Homo sapiens: one gene and its partner. The protein of the gene in region 1 interacts with the protein of each later gene in a pairwise test. Each region holds a gene or a part of one and is shown in the gene's direction. Other genes may lie near its edges.

Region 1 (7,039 bases):
TATGAATCCAGTTCCCATGTTTCTTCTACCATCCTGCCTCTCTATTAATGGGTTAATAGTTCACTGAGGGTGGTGGCTTATGCCTGTAATCCCAGCATTTTGAGAGGCTGAGGCAGGAGTATTGCTTGAGGCCAGTTCAAGACCAGCATGGGCAACATAACAAGATCCTGTCTCTACAGAAGTAAAAAAAAAAAAAAAAAAATTATCTGGGTGTGGTAGCAAATACTTGTAGCCTCCCTCAGCCAGAAGGCTTAGGCAGGAGGATCACTTGAACCCAAGAGTTTAAGGTTACAGTGAGCTATAATTTTACCACCTCACTCCAGCCTGGCTGACAGAGGGAGACCCTGTCACTTTAAAAAATAAAATAAAAAAAAGTAAACCTGCCATTTTACAGGATACAGTGATAGTGCATGGTCTGATCCCTTGCCCTATTCATTTTAAGTGCCACATTCTCTATTAACTCCCCAGGGCCTGTGAGCATCCACTCCTTGAGGGAGGTGTCCATAGCATGGTGTAGAGAGCATAATTTTGTACCTTATATAGTTAAGTCATTTATTCCATGTAGCCCTGATTTGATTAGGCCTTGTTTGGTTTTTGTTTTTGTTTTTTTTGAGACAGGGTCTCTGCCCAGGCTGGAATGCAGTGGCGTGATCACGGCCCACTGCAGCCTTGACCTCCTGGGCTTAAGCGATCTTCCCACCTCAGCCTTCTGAATAGCTGGGATCATAGGCGTGTGCCACCACCCCTGGCTAATTTTTTTTTATTAATTTTTTTTTTTTAGCTAAAGATGATAAAAACAAGACAAAAAATTATTTTATTTATGTATTTTTTTTTTTTTTGAGATAGGTTCTTGCTCTGTTGCCCAGGCTGGAGTGCAGTGATGTAATCATGGCTCACTGTGGCTTCATCCTCCTAGGCTCAACCAATCCTCTCATCTCAGCCTCCCGAGTAGCTGGGACCGCAAGTGTGCACCACCATACCGAGCTAATTTTTTTATTTTTTTGTAGAGACAGGGTCTCACTGTGTTGCCCAGGCTGGTCTCGAACTCCTCCCTGGTCTCAAGTGATCCCCCCACCTCAGCCTCCTAAAGTTTTGAGATTACAGGCATGAGCCAAAATGCCTAGCCTAATTTTTTAAATTTTTTTGTAGAGGCAGGGTCTCACTATGTTGCCTAGGCTGGTCTCAAACAGCTGGACTCAAACCATCCTCCTACTTCAGCCTCCCAAAGTGTTGGGATTACAGACATGAGGCATGGCCCCCAGCCTTAGGCTTCATTTTTATGACCTATAAAATGGAGAGAATACCCTATAAATTTGTTGTAAGGCTTAAATAACGTGTGTAGAAGACTTAGTGCATTGTCTGGCATATAGAGAGCTTTCAATAATCAACAGCTATTATTATGGTGAGGCAAGAGCACAAGCTCTTGAGTCATACCTCTAACATTCACTTGGCTTTACTACTTTAATTTGTGTGGCACCGACCAAAGCACTTAATTTCCCCGTGCCTCAGTTTCTTCACCTTTGAAATAAGGATAATAATAGTGAAGAAGTTAATATATGTAAGGAATTTAAAATAGCATTTGACACATAAGTGCCATGCAAGTGTTAGTTGTTAATGACTGTTGCTGTCGACTCTGGTTAGACTGTAAATTCCTTAAGTTATCATCTTTTTTTATTGATTTTCCCTTCCCCCACCTACAAAACCTATCTTAGTGGTGAAACATAAGCCTGACCAAATGTTTTATTTTGGGGCATACTTAACTAATAAGTCTGAAGTGACAAGGATTTACTGTGTTGTGCTGTACTCAGCCATAAGGAACATTCTAAAGCAGAAGTTGGCAGACTTTTTGTGAAGAGCCAGATAGCAAATACTTTAGACTTCACAGACCATGTGGTCTCTGGCACAATTTCTCAGCTCTGCAGTTCTAGTGGAAAAGCAGTTATAGACACTACATAAACAAATAAGCGTGACTGTAGTTTTTTGACCCCTTCCCTAATGTCTAGACTGTGAGCTCAACAATGACAGTCTTTTTCATCTTTGTGCCCCTGTGACTAGCAGATACTAGGTACTGTTGTATGTTTGCTGAATGAATGAGCACACAGATTCTGAACAACACAGATTCCAAGTATGTGGAATCAGCAGGGTCGTCCTGGCATCAGAAATCAGTTCTCTCTTTTTTTTTTTTTTGACACAGAGTCTCGCTCTGTCACTCAGGCTGGAGTGCAGTGGCGCAATCTCGGATCACTGCAACCTCCGCCTCCTGGGTTCAAGTGATTCTTCTGCCTCAGCCTCCCGAGTAGCTGGGATTATAGACGTGCGCCACATGCCTGGCTAATTTTTTGTGTTTGTTAGTAGAGATGGGTTTCACCATGTTGGCCAGGCTGGTTTCGAACTCCTGACCTCGAGTGATCTGCCTGCCTCAGCCTCCCAAAGTGTTGGGATTACAGGTGTGAGTCACCGTGCCCGGCCAGCAATCAGTTCTCTTTGTCAACTTTATTTAGTTGCCTGTGGGACCCTGACATTCTGTATCTGTGCTCCTATGGCCTCTGGAGATGTGTGTGAAAATTGTCTCCTCGGCCCTTAGCCTACTTCACCTCTTGTGCTCACAAAAAGGGGACAGAGAGGAGGGAGAGGAATCCAGCAAGATGAAGCCAGCCTGAGAGAGCATAAAAACCAGTCATTGGTATTGTGGTCTTGCCCAAATCTTTCCCTCGTGTGAAGGAAGCCTTTGACAGTGAAGTTTAGAATTAAATACAGGGCCAGCTGAAGCATGGTGAAGCCCTCCAACTGCCTTTGCCTTGCAGAGCAGTCCATCATCAGCGAGTATGAGAAGAGCTTGCAGTTTGATGAAAAGTGTCTCAGCATCATGCTGGCTGAGTGGGAGGCAAACCCACTCATCTGTCCTGTATGTACAAAGTAAGAGTTTTTAAAACCTTTTCAGCATTATTCGTTCCCATTCCCCACTCCAAGGTGAGTGGAATCTCCCCCCAGATTTGTTGCCTGAAATTCAAGGTTTGGAGATCCAGGTCTGGTGGCCATGATGCTCTGGGATCCTAATTCTGCTTCTAGGTACAACCTGAGAATCACAAGCGGTGTGGTGGTGTGTCAGTGTGGCCTGTCCATCCCATCTCATGTGAGTGTTCCACACACAGATTTCATGATACTTCTTCCCACATGGATCTACTTTCTTGAAGATCCTCCAGTGCTGACTTGGAGCCCATTGTGCATATTTCTTCCCAGTTTTATGTTCAGTGGTGTCACATTGGTAGCTTCAAATCAGCCATGGTGAGAATATCTATGGCATGAAAATTGGCAAACAGTACACATCAGAGCCTTTAGGGCCCTGGAGAGCCATCACCGCTTAACGTTTTTATGGAGACCTCAGCTTGGGATTGGTAACGCCTGTATCTGACGTTTCATAAAAATTTTCTATATATGAAGACATACCTAATTCAGAATTTAAGCTTCAGTAATTTTTTTTTTTTTTTTTTTGAGACGGAGTCTCACTCTGTTGCCCAGGCTGGAGTACAGTGGCGTGATTTAGGCTCACTGCAACCTCTGCCTTGCGGGTTCAAGTCATTCTCCTGCCTCAGCCTCCCAAGTAGCTGGGATTACAGGTGCCTGCCACCACGCCCGGCTAATTTTTTTTTTATTTTTAGTAGAGATGGGTTTTCACCATCTTGGCCAGGCTGGTCTCGAACTCCTGACTTCGTGATCCACCCACTTCAGCCTTCCAAAGTGCTGGGATTACAGGTGTGAGCCACCACGCCCGGCCTTCAGTAATCTTAAAATACAGAAAAAGCCCTTTTATCTGGCATGATGGGGACTGCAAGTTTGCCAGTTAATTGAGCGATTGGTTAAAGAGGCAAATTATAAAAATAAAATGTTTTATGGTAAGTTTCAAACACATAAATTTATTTGCCAGCCTTTGAGTGGGGCCCTGCTGATTGGAGAGCTGAGTCACCTGTTTTATTTTTTATTTTATTTGAGACAGAGTCTCACTCTGTCACCCAGGCTGGAGTGCAGTGGTGTGATCTCTGCTCACTGCAACCTCCACCTCCCGAGTTCAAGCGAATCTCCTGCCTCAGCCTCTTGAGTAGCTGGGATTACAGGCACGTGCCACCATGCCTGGCTAATTTTTGTATTTTTAGTAGAGACGGGGTTTCACCATGTTGGTCACGCTGGTCTCGAACTCCTGACTTCAGGTGATCTGCCCACCTTGGCCTCCCAAAGTGTTGGGATTACAAGCGTGAGCCACTGTGCCTCGCTGAGTCACCTTTTTTACATAAACAACTTCTATAATACATAGTCCAGAGTTTCCGGTTTTAATTCCATAAAGTGGATCAAGAAACTGAGTATACAACTTAGGAATTTTTCCTCCCCATCTTTTACCTAATTCTATAGCTCTTTTTCTTTCTTTCTTTTTTTTTTAAGCAGCTCATCTGTTTGTTTCCTAAACATTCTACTTATCACTATAAAAATAAAACTTATTATTTACATAATAAGTAATTAGCATTACTGAGTTACAGTAGGAAGTTCAAGTAACCCAAGCAGACCCGGGAGCATATACTGCTAGTTGTTGGTAAGGATGCACTCAGCTGGTGGGGGCAGAGGCAGAGGGAGGCTGGAAAGTAGCCTACAATCTCTGAGCGTTCTTCCTGCCATGAGTGGCCATCAGTGTGTTTGACAGCAGGAGTAGAGGGCGTTGGTTAATCTGGAGAGGCAGTTAAATGGAGATGGGTTAAGAGATCTTGGTACAGTCATGGGCCCGAGTGTCTTTAAGGCTCCAAGGAGTCAAGCCATCACAGTGAGCCACGGTTATATTGGTTGGCATGAGGAATGAGGATTTTCCATCTGTTGGCTATCAAGTCACTGAGAGGAGGTTGAACTTTTTTATTTTGTAGTCTTCTGAGTTGACAGAGCAGAAGCTTCGTGCCTGTTTAGAGGGTAGTATAAATGAGCACAGTGCACATTGTCCCCACACACCTGAATTTTCAGTCACTGGAGGAACAGAAGAAAAGTCCAGTCTTCTCATGAGCTGTCTGGTAAGCGTCTCCTGGGACCCACTCTGTGGTAAGAGGGACCTGTGGTTGGTTTTATTCCCACCTTGATAGAAATAATGACCTATAAACAGGTAAATGTTTAATGCAGTTTATTATCTGAGGAATTTACCTGCATAGAAAAGTGAAGGTAACAAGTCATTTAGACTCAAAGGCCAGTCAGAAAGAAGGGAAGAGGCAGCATGGGATCACGGCAAGAGGATTGGTCTGGGAGTTAGGACGCCTGGCTCCACACCTGCTCTTCTTTGATCAGTAGTAGTGGTTTTGGATTCAGCTGGTCATTTCATAGTCATAAGACCCAGATAGGCCATGCTGGCACCACTTTTGCGGAAGGAAACAGGGCAGAAGCATAGCAGGGCAGCATTAGGTTTGTCTGTCAGTGGAGTTTTTACAGAGGTCCAAGGGCTATTCGCTAACCTGAGTGACAACTGAGGTGTGAGGGCCAGGAACACAAGTGGGTAAGGGAACCACCTGTCTTAGAAGCGTGCTATAGGAACCAATATCTCTTATAATCCATGTCCTTTCCATATATGTGTATGTATGTATGTACATGTGTATATATATCACACAAACACACATAAAACCAATATGATACGTATTATTATTGCTTTTAGATCCCAGGCAGGGGGAGCCTTGGGATTAGGAGCACACTGTACTTCAGGAAGTTCATAGCCATGGCTTTCTACTGGGAATTTAGAATTCCTTCATGGCCCTGTCATTCCAAATGCAGTTAACCTACAGAGGTCATTTTTATTATAAGCAGCATTGCCTGGTAACAGCCATTTCACCTTTATCAAGTTTCTTCCATAGGTATTCTACTCATTCATTAAAAAAAAAATGAATTGAGGACTCATTAACATTGAGAAATACACATCTCTCACAGAGCTCAAGCCTTGGGTTGGTAATAAGAGAACAGAATAAACAGGCAGTACCCTGGAGAGCTGTACAAGGAGGGCTTATGGGAGTTCAGAGGAGGGTGATCTCCTTTATGGTGACACCTTCCTGGAGGAGGCATTTAACTTGGCCTTGAAGCATGGAATCGATCTGGACAGACATGGAGATCTGGTGAGTTGTGGGGGTAGAGCTTAAGTGGAAGATCCCCACATAGAAGAACAAGGCAGAGAAGCAGGAAACTGGAGTATATACAAAGAGCATCTTGTTCTACTTAGCTGGAGCATTAGGTTCATGAGGGAGAGGATAGTTCCTGTTAGGAATAGGAAACAGATTCAGAGAAGTGATGTAATCTGGCCAAAATTTTACTACTAATAAGCGATAGAGCTGGTGTTAGACCCCAGGTCTTTGTGGTTCCAGTGCCCCTGCTGTTTCCTGCTCCAGGCTCAGGCCTTGGTGGAAGGATGCCATTTTCCATCAGCTTGTATGGAAAGAGACATAGCAGGTGAAAGTTTAAATAAAACCCCTCACTACTTCCTGTTGACTACAAGCATATGTTCCCTTCTGTTCCAGCTATCCAGCACTGGTAGCAGATGCTCAAATATGCAGTGCTTTCAGGCCTCTGTGCTGTTGTTTAGGCTGTTCTGTCTGAATGACTTTGACTCCTCCCACTACATTTAAGGATCATTTGCACAAATATTTACCAAGCACTACAATATGCCGTGTACTTCATTCAGCCTGATTCCTCACAAGGAATTGGCCAGTCTCAGCTGGCCACGGTGGCTCACGCCTGTAATCCCAGCACTTTGGGAGGCCGAGGTGGGCAGATCACCTGAGGTCAGGAGTTTAAGACCAGCCTGGCCAACATGGTGAAACCCCATCTTTACTAAAAATACAAAACTTAGCTGGACATGGTGGTGGGTGCCTGTAATCTCAGCTACTCGGGAGGCTGGGGCAGGAGAATCGCTTGAACCCGGGAGGCGGAGGTTGCAGTGAGCTGAGATCGTGCTGCTGGATTCCAGCCTGGGCAACAGGGTGAGATTCTGTCTCAAAAACAGAATTGGTGGCTGAGTGCGGTGGCTCACGCC
Region 2 (7,039 bases), on another chromosome or scaffold:
AGGCTTAGGAGTTTCTCAAGTAAAATTAATTAGAGATTCAGCAATGTGGCTTTAAGTAGAATTGACTGTTTTCGTTTGTGCTATTTTTTTCACCCACAGACTGGTTGAAATAGCAGAATCCCGTTTTCCCAGATATTTTAACACTGAAGAAAAGTTACTTTTGACAAGTAGTAAAGTTCATCTTTATCGGGAACTCACCTGTGATGAAGTTCTACAAAGGTATGCTGCTTTAGATTTTGATTTTTTAGTAATGCGTTGAAGGTTTATGTTTTATCTTTTATGTTTCAGCTTCTAAGTGAAAAAAGTCTTTATAGGTTAGAATTATGTGGAGTAACTTTTTCAGTGTTCTTCTTTGTTATAGCCTTTTGGTTGAAGTCTTTCTTGAAAAACAAAAAAAATTAAATGAATAAAATGTTCTGTATTTAATTAATTAAGTGGTGTATTATTTATCTATTGTTTCATTAACAAATTGTCTCACAGTTTAGTAGCTTAAAACAGCAAATACATATTATTTCACATAGTTTCTGAGGGTTAAGTGTCTGGGAGTAGCTTAGCTGGGTGTTTCTGGCTCAATGTCGCTCAAGAGGTTATAGTCAAGCTGGTGGCCAGGGCTGCAGTTATCTTAAGGCTTGACTGGAGCTGGAGTACCTGCTTCCAAGCTCCCTAATATAGTTGTTGGAAGCCCTCTGTTTCTTGCTGGCAGTGGGCAAGAGACCTTTGTTCCTTACCGTCTGGGCCTCTCCATAAATCACAACATAGCAAGTTGCTTTCCTCAGAGTAAGTGACCTGAGAGACTGGGCAAGTGAAAGAGTACCCAAGATGGAAGCTGTAGTCTTTTATAACCCACACTCAGAAATAAGGTACCATGATCTTGTCATATGCTTGTGGTCATACAGATCAAGTCTGGCACACTGTGGGAGGGACCTATACAAGGATGCAAAATACCAAGAGGAGGGAGTAAGTGTGGGCCATTTTGCAGACTGGCTACCACAAGTAGTTTTACCCCAGAATTGGAGCGTTAACATTATCTTAGGAGAATCAAGGAATTCTGAAACTACACAGAAACAGTTTGCTCTGTTTCCAGAAAAGTATGATATGTCTACAAGTTAGGTTTACTGAATTCTTGCAAATCATTACTGTAACTTAGGAAAGAATAGTTTATTGTTTTTAAGTTGCTTAGCCTTTGCAATACCTTTATTTATTTATTTTATCTTAAATTTATTGACTATTTTATAAATTCTTCTTTTATAGGATTGAATCTTTGGAAGAAGAAATTATCTCAAAAGGAATTAAACTTGTGATTCTTGACTCTGTTGCTTCTGTGGTCAGAAAGGAGTTTGATGCACAACTTCAAGGCAATCTCAAAGAAAGAAACAAGTTCTTGGCAAGAGAGGCATCCTCCTTGAAGTATTTGGCTGAGGAGTTTTCAATCCCAGTAAGTTTTTCTTTTTTTCTCTTTTTTCTTTTCCTTTCTTTTGTTTCTTTTATATTACATTCACTGACTTATGGTATCAAATAATAAAATTAGAGGAAAATGTAAAACAGATGACTTTTTAAAGGTAGTACAGTCTAATTGCTATAGCAAACATCGCCATCATCTTAAATTAGCTCATCTGCTGAGATTATTTTATTATTTTAATAATTTGAGTCTGGAGTAGATTTAAACGATGTTTTTAAAAGTTCCTATAGTCCCTCCTTTTCTTCCTTCTCATTGTTTACTCTTTGTGTGTGCTTTGTATCACATTTCTCACACTGCAGTAAATATAAAGTAGTAAAACTTCATGAAATTGCCTAGATCTATTTCTATATAATTAAAAAAAATACTGCAGTTGTTGTTAGTTTTGTTTTAAGTATTTTAGGTTTAGATACTGTGTTATTGTGTTCAGCGCTGTTTTGTGTACAATAGGATTTGGTTTGCTTCAAATGGTCAGAGGTCAACCATTAAGAGATGTTGGAATGATAGTAATGAAAGTGTCAGTAAGAAAACCTTGAAAGATTATTTGTGGCATGGCTTTTTGTAGCGGGCATTGTGATCAGAAATCTGAAGATGACAGGCTATTACAAGGGCTTGTGATGTGTAACCTGCAAGACGTAAGTGTGTACTAAGTTACACTCCCATCTGCAGTGTGTCAGGGAGTTTTAGTCGTTGTTCCACAGCCTCATCAACATTCAGGCTTCTCAATTTTAGTCATGCTTCATCTCAAGAAAAGATAGTTCCTTAAACTGAGATAAAATTTGGTTATGATTTTATAATTTTTAGATTTGTTTTTGGAAAATTAAAATCTTGGATCTTTGCAACATAAAGAATATGTATAAATAATATAAACTATCACACAGCCTTTGAGGTTTATAAAACCAAGGAAGAAGTCAAGGGAGAAAATATGACATTCAAAAAGTTCTGCATACTTTAATGGCTTTTTAGTTTATATTTTGAATTAAAGTCAAGTGCTGTTAAGTTTGTCTTGGGTGATGTTCATCTTTTACATTTTATTGTAGTTGGTTAAAATGATAAATTCAAATTTATATTTTTCCTGATCAAGGAGAATAAGGGAACTTTGAAATACTGTATAAAGATACTTGATTGAATAGAAAGTTATGTATATAGTTGGCCCTCTGTATCTGTGGGTTCTGCATCCATGGATTCAACCAACTAAAGATAGGAGATATTTGAAAAAGCAATGGGTGTGGTAGTGTGCCCCTGCAGTCTCAGCTACTCAAGAGGCTGAGGTGGGAGGATCACTTAGGCGCAGGAGGTTGAGGTTGCATTGAGCCATGTTCATGTCACTGCACTTCAGCCTGGGAGACAGAGTGAGACCCTCTCTCTAAAAATATATATATATATTTGAAAGAAAAGAAAAGGATAGTTGTCTTTGTACTGAACATGTACAGACTTTTTTCTTGTCATGATTCCCTATAGTTAAGCAGAGATTTACATAGCATGTACATTGTATTGGGTATTATAAGTAATGTAAAGTTGATTTAAAGTATACCAGAGAATGTACATAGATTATGTGCAAACACTGCACCATTTTATATGAGGGACTTGAGCATCCGTGGATTATGGTATCTGCAGAGGAGTCCTGGAACCAATCCCCCATGGATACAGGGGGATGACTATATATTCTTATTTTATTATTAATTCATACTGTTGCTTGACTTAATTCCGTGCAAAATAAAATTCACTTTTTAAATGTTGTGTTTGTTTGCTTTTAAGTAGTAACTGTAGGCTAATGCTTTTCAGTTTTTCCTAAGGTGATTTATTTTCCCAAGTGAGAAAGGGGCACTGCTTTTCTTTGTTTTTAATAGAACCCTCTGAAAAAATAGGTACTGAATATCCCATTTCTATGCCTTTGGCTTTGTTTCTCTATTTAGAAATAAATGCAGATTATACTATGTACTTATATAACTGTGATATCTGTTTTTTGTGACAATTAAGATTGTAAGATTGGTTTTAAAAGGATTTTGAAAAATATTTCCTTTAGAAAATGTTGGAATTTTCCTAGCTAAATTGATACATTTAAATGGAAAATCTCTCACACAGGTCCGAGATTTAATTAAAAAAAAAAAAAGGAAATCATGAACTTTTACACATTTATACTGTACTTTGAACAGGCACCATAGTACTGTTCAAATTAATTATGTCAATTTAATATGTTATATATGATAATTTGCTAAATTAAATTATTGCTTGCTATATATATAAGCTTACCTCACAGATTGTCTTGAAATATGTATATAAATATAAATATATAAAAATAAAAAATATATATAATAAAAATATATAAATATATAAAATGTGATTATTCAGCTTTTCCCCCCCTTTCTCTATTTGAACTAGTACTAGAAAACCTCGTCTTTTGGGAAGGGTGACATCATTTGGCCCTTATGTGCGCATGAATGCATTTAAGTTTTAAGTATGCTGTTGCTTTTTTCTACGTTAGTCCCTGAGAATTAAAGAGGAATTAATCGATATCACTTGATTGAAAACAGATGTATTAATATCTTTCAGAAGTTTTCAATTATAAGATGGCTTTACTAATATTTTGAGGCTATCACTGAAATGAAAACATAAAATTAAAAAATTTTCACAGAGAATTTTATAGACCTTTGAGTATGTTCAGACTGCAGTTTTGAGAAACAGTTGTAGAAGTCTGGTAGAATCTTTTCTCCTGAAGTTTATGGAGGAGGTGTAAGTGATACTCTGCCATTGGGATGGAAGATGCGGAACCTTTGTCTTTTTAAAGTGTTCACACTAGTATTGAAAAAACAGTAGGCTCTGAAGCTGTTTAGAGATACTGGATAAAAGTAACCGAAAAAAATTTAAATACTGCTTTATAAAATAAATTGTGGTTATGGCTATTTATGTTGACTTTATCATTGACTTCTAATTACCACGTACAGAATAGTTATTATACGTATTGTAAATTATGTATCAGATTAAAATAATAGGATGTTTTTGCCAGAAAGGACCTTAAAGAAAATTTAGTTTGGCCCCTTCATTTTACAGATGACAATGAATCCGAAAAGTGACCTGATTTGCTCCAGGACACTCAACATAGGAAAGGACAAACAGTGGGTAGAATGAGAGATCTTTTAGCTGCCAGTTTGGGGATTTTTTTTTTTCCACAGCAGAATTTTCTTTTTTTCTGAGACATACAGAATTACGGTGGACTGTAAACTTCTTTTTATTTATTTATTATTATTATTATACTTTAAGTTTTAGGGTACATGTGCACAATGTGCAGGTTAGTTACATATGTATACATGTGCCATGCTGGTGCGCTGCACCCACTAACTCGTCATCTAGCATTAGGTATATCTCCCAGTGCTATCCCTCCCCCCTCCCCCCACCCCACAACAGTCCCCAGAGTGTAAACTTCTTAATGACAGGATTATATTTTCTGTTTCTCTGATTTCCAGGACCTAGCACTGTGGATAACTAATATTTAGGAGGTAACAGCTAATGAAAGTACAATTAAGGTTTATGAAAATAGTCTTACCATATGTATGTCATATTTACATTCATTGGAATATTTTTCTTTATCTTTTAAAACATAATTTGAATTTTTTTATGCTTGCTGCTGAAATTCTTATGTTTTTGTTTTTAAATTGACCTTTGTAGTATGCCATCTTAGTTGTATTCTTTTTATTTATTTTCCATTCCAGAGTTTTATAAGTTGTTGGAATAAAAGAAAATGAAAATGCATTGCTTAGATAACAGGACTTTCACCTTTTGAAAATTCTTTGGAAATGCTTTTTACTGGTATTTCCAAGGTCTACATTTTTACTTTTTCAGAGAATTCAACAAATCAATTTCAGTTGTTATATGAATAATATTGAACTTTTTTGTCTCCCCTTAATCTTCTTCTACTTCCTTCATTTCTTGATATTGTACAAATGTTTTCTGGTGTAAGGGGAGGAGTACCAGTTAACACTATTTACAAAAGAGGTTTATGGAGATAAATTTGGATATATTATTAAATATTCTAAGAGGGAAATGCCTTATTTTCATTGAAAGTTGTTGTTAAAATCCAAATTATTTTACTAAGATGTGCTTATAATCCGTTTTTCTGTGGCCATCTGTGTTCTTGATTACATGCCTTTTGAGAATATCCATTGCTCTAATTTATTGCTTATCAAGGTTTTTGGAATATTAGTGATTATTTTTATGTTTAAAGCTGCTTAGACAAATGAATCAAAATATGTGCATTTTAAATTTTGCTATTTTAAAGACAGTTTTAAATCATTAACAAATGGAAAGAATTTGTTCTGGTTTTAAAGTGGACATATAACAAGGTTAAATTTTTTATTATTATTTGAGACAAGCACAAATTTTTTTTTCCTCTTTTTAATGGTGAACTTCATGTGGGCCTGGATTTATTTATTTATTTATTTATTTTACACCATGAGCTGTTCCATTATGCCAAGTGGGTTTAATTTATGCAGGATTATACCTTGTCTTAGATACTAATAAATATTCAAAATAGAAAAATAAGAAACTAGGCCACTTCATTTAAAATAATTAAGGTTTTATTAATTATAAATTGGGAATATTGTGTTTATAACTGGTGAGATAAGAGGAAAAAGAATGTATGTACCCAAATTCGACATTTATTTTTATCTTAAACATAAATATTCAGAACTGTCACTTTTGTGAAAGCCTGATGAAGTCACTCTGATTGTAAAGTAGGAATCCTAGACCCTTGATGTAGACATAGATATGCCATTAAAACTGCAGTCCTGTTTTGCTGTGTGTAACATTGTTGTATCACTTTTCTAGAAATGTAATTTTTGGTTTACTCTTATTACTTTCATATTTTTACTGAAAACAAGCACCACAGGACTTCTGAGGTAAGAAAAGTCCTTTACAGGATTTTTCTTTTCCATAAATGCTTACTGTTGGCTCACTCACATTTGAAATCAGATTGTTCTTAAACCTATCCTATGTTCATTCAGGTCCCTGAAACTCACAGTCTAGACTAAACCTTTATCAGTTAGTGAAAATAATTCTAGAAAAAGTGTATCTTTCTTTTATGTAGCTCTTTATGACTTCTGAAACTTTGTTTTTATTGTTTCTAGCAAAAACCTAGAAACAACTTAAAAGTTAGTAAGTAGGTGATTGGCTAAATTAATGTTGACATATCCATACAATATTATATTGTGCCACTGTTACAATGAATGGTTTAGCCCAGAAATGGATTCATAGGTTATGCAGGCAAGGGTTAATTCAGCTAGCATGGGTTACTCATATCCAGCCATTCCCAAAAAAGGCCTCTTTTCAGGACTGCCCTTGCCTGGCTCCTGGGAGATGAGTGCTGGGCCCTGGGAATACTCTGCCTAGTAAGGGTGTTATATGCCTGAGGACTTGAGCCACAGGTACTGGTTTGATCAGATTGTTTATGCAAACAGTGTGATTTATGGTGAAGCCTATTTTTCTCTGGGGATCTGGGGACTACAATCTAAATAGCTGAGGTCATCTGCATGCAGGCATTGCATGCCTAGTGACTGACCCTCAATAGAAATGCTGGACATTAAGGCT

What was found.
Region 2: the proteins of RPAIN (region 1) and RAD51B interact in binary tests that used the Homo sapiens proteins (3 or more experiments, as listed by UniProt).

What each region holds. Positions count from the first base shown.
Region 1 is NC_000017.11:5,423,167-5,430,205, forward strand, and holds part of RPAIN (RPA-interacting protein), read left to right. Parts: intron 1-2,804; coding exon 2,805-2,916; intron 2,917-2,970; coding exon of another isoform or gene 2,971-3,041; exon of another isoform or gene 3,042-3,063; intron 3,064-3,069; coding exon 3,070-3,133; intron 3,134-4,904; coding exon 4,905-5,045; coding exon of another isoform or gene 5,046-5,111; exon of another isoform or gene 5,112-6,495; intron 6,496-7,039. UniProt on the Homo sapiens protein: Mediates the import of RPA complex into the nucleus, possibly via some interaction with importin beta.
Region 2 is NC_000014.9:67,885,770-67,892,808, forward strand, and holds part of RAD51B (DNA repair protein RAD51 homolog 2), read left to right. Parts: intron 1-99; coding exon 100-219; intron 220-1,251; coding exon 1,252-1,435; intron 1,436-7,039. UniProt on the Homo sapiens protein: Involved in the homologous recombination repair (HRR) pathway of double-stranded DNA breaks arising during DNA replication or induced by DNA-damaging agents. May promote the assembly of presynaptic RAD51 nucleoprotein filaments.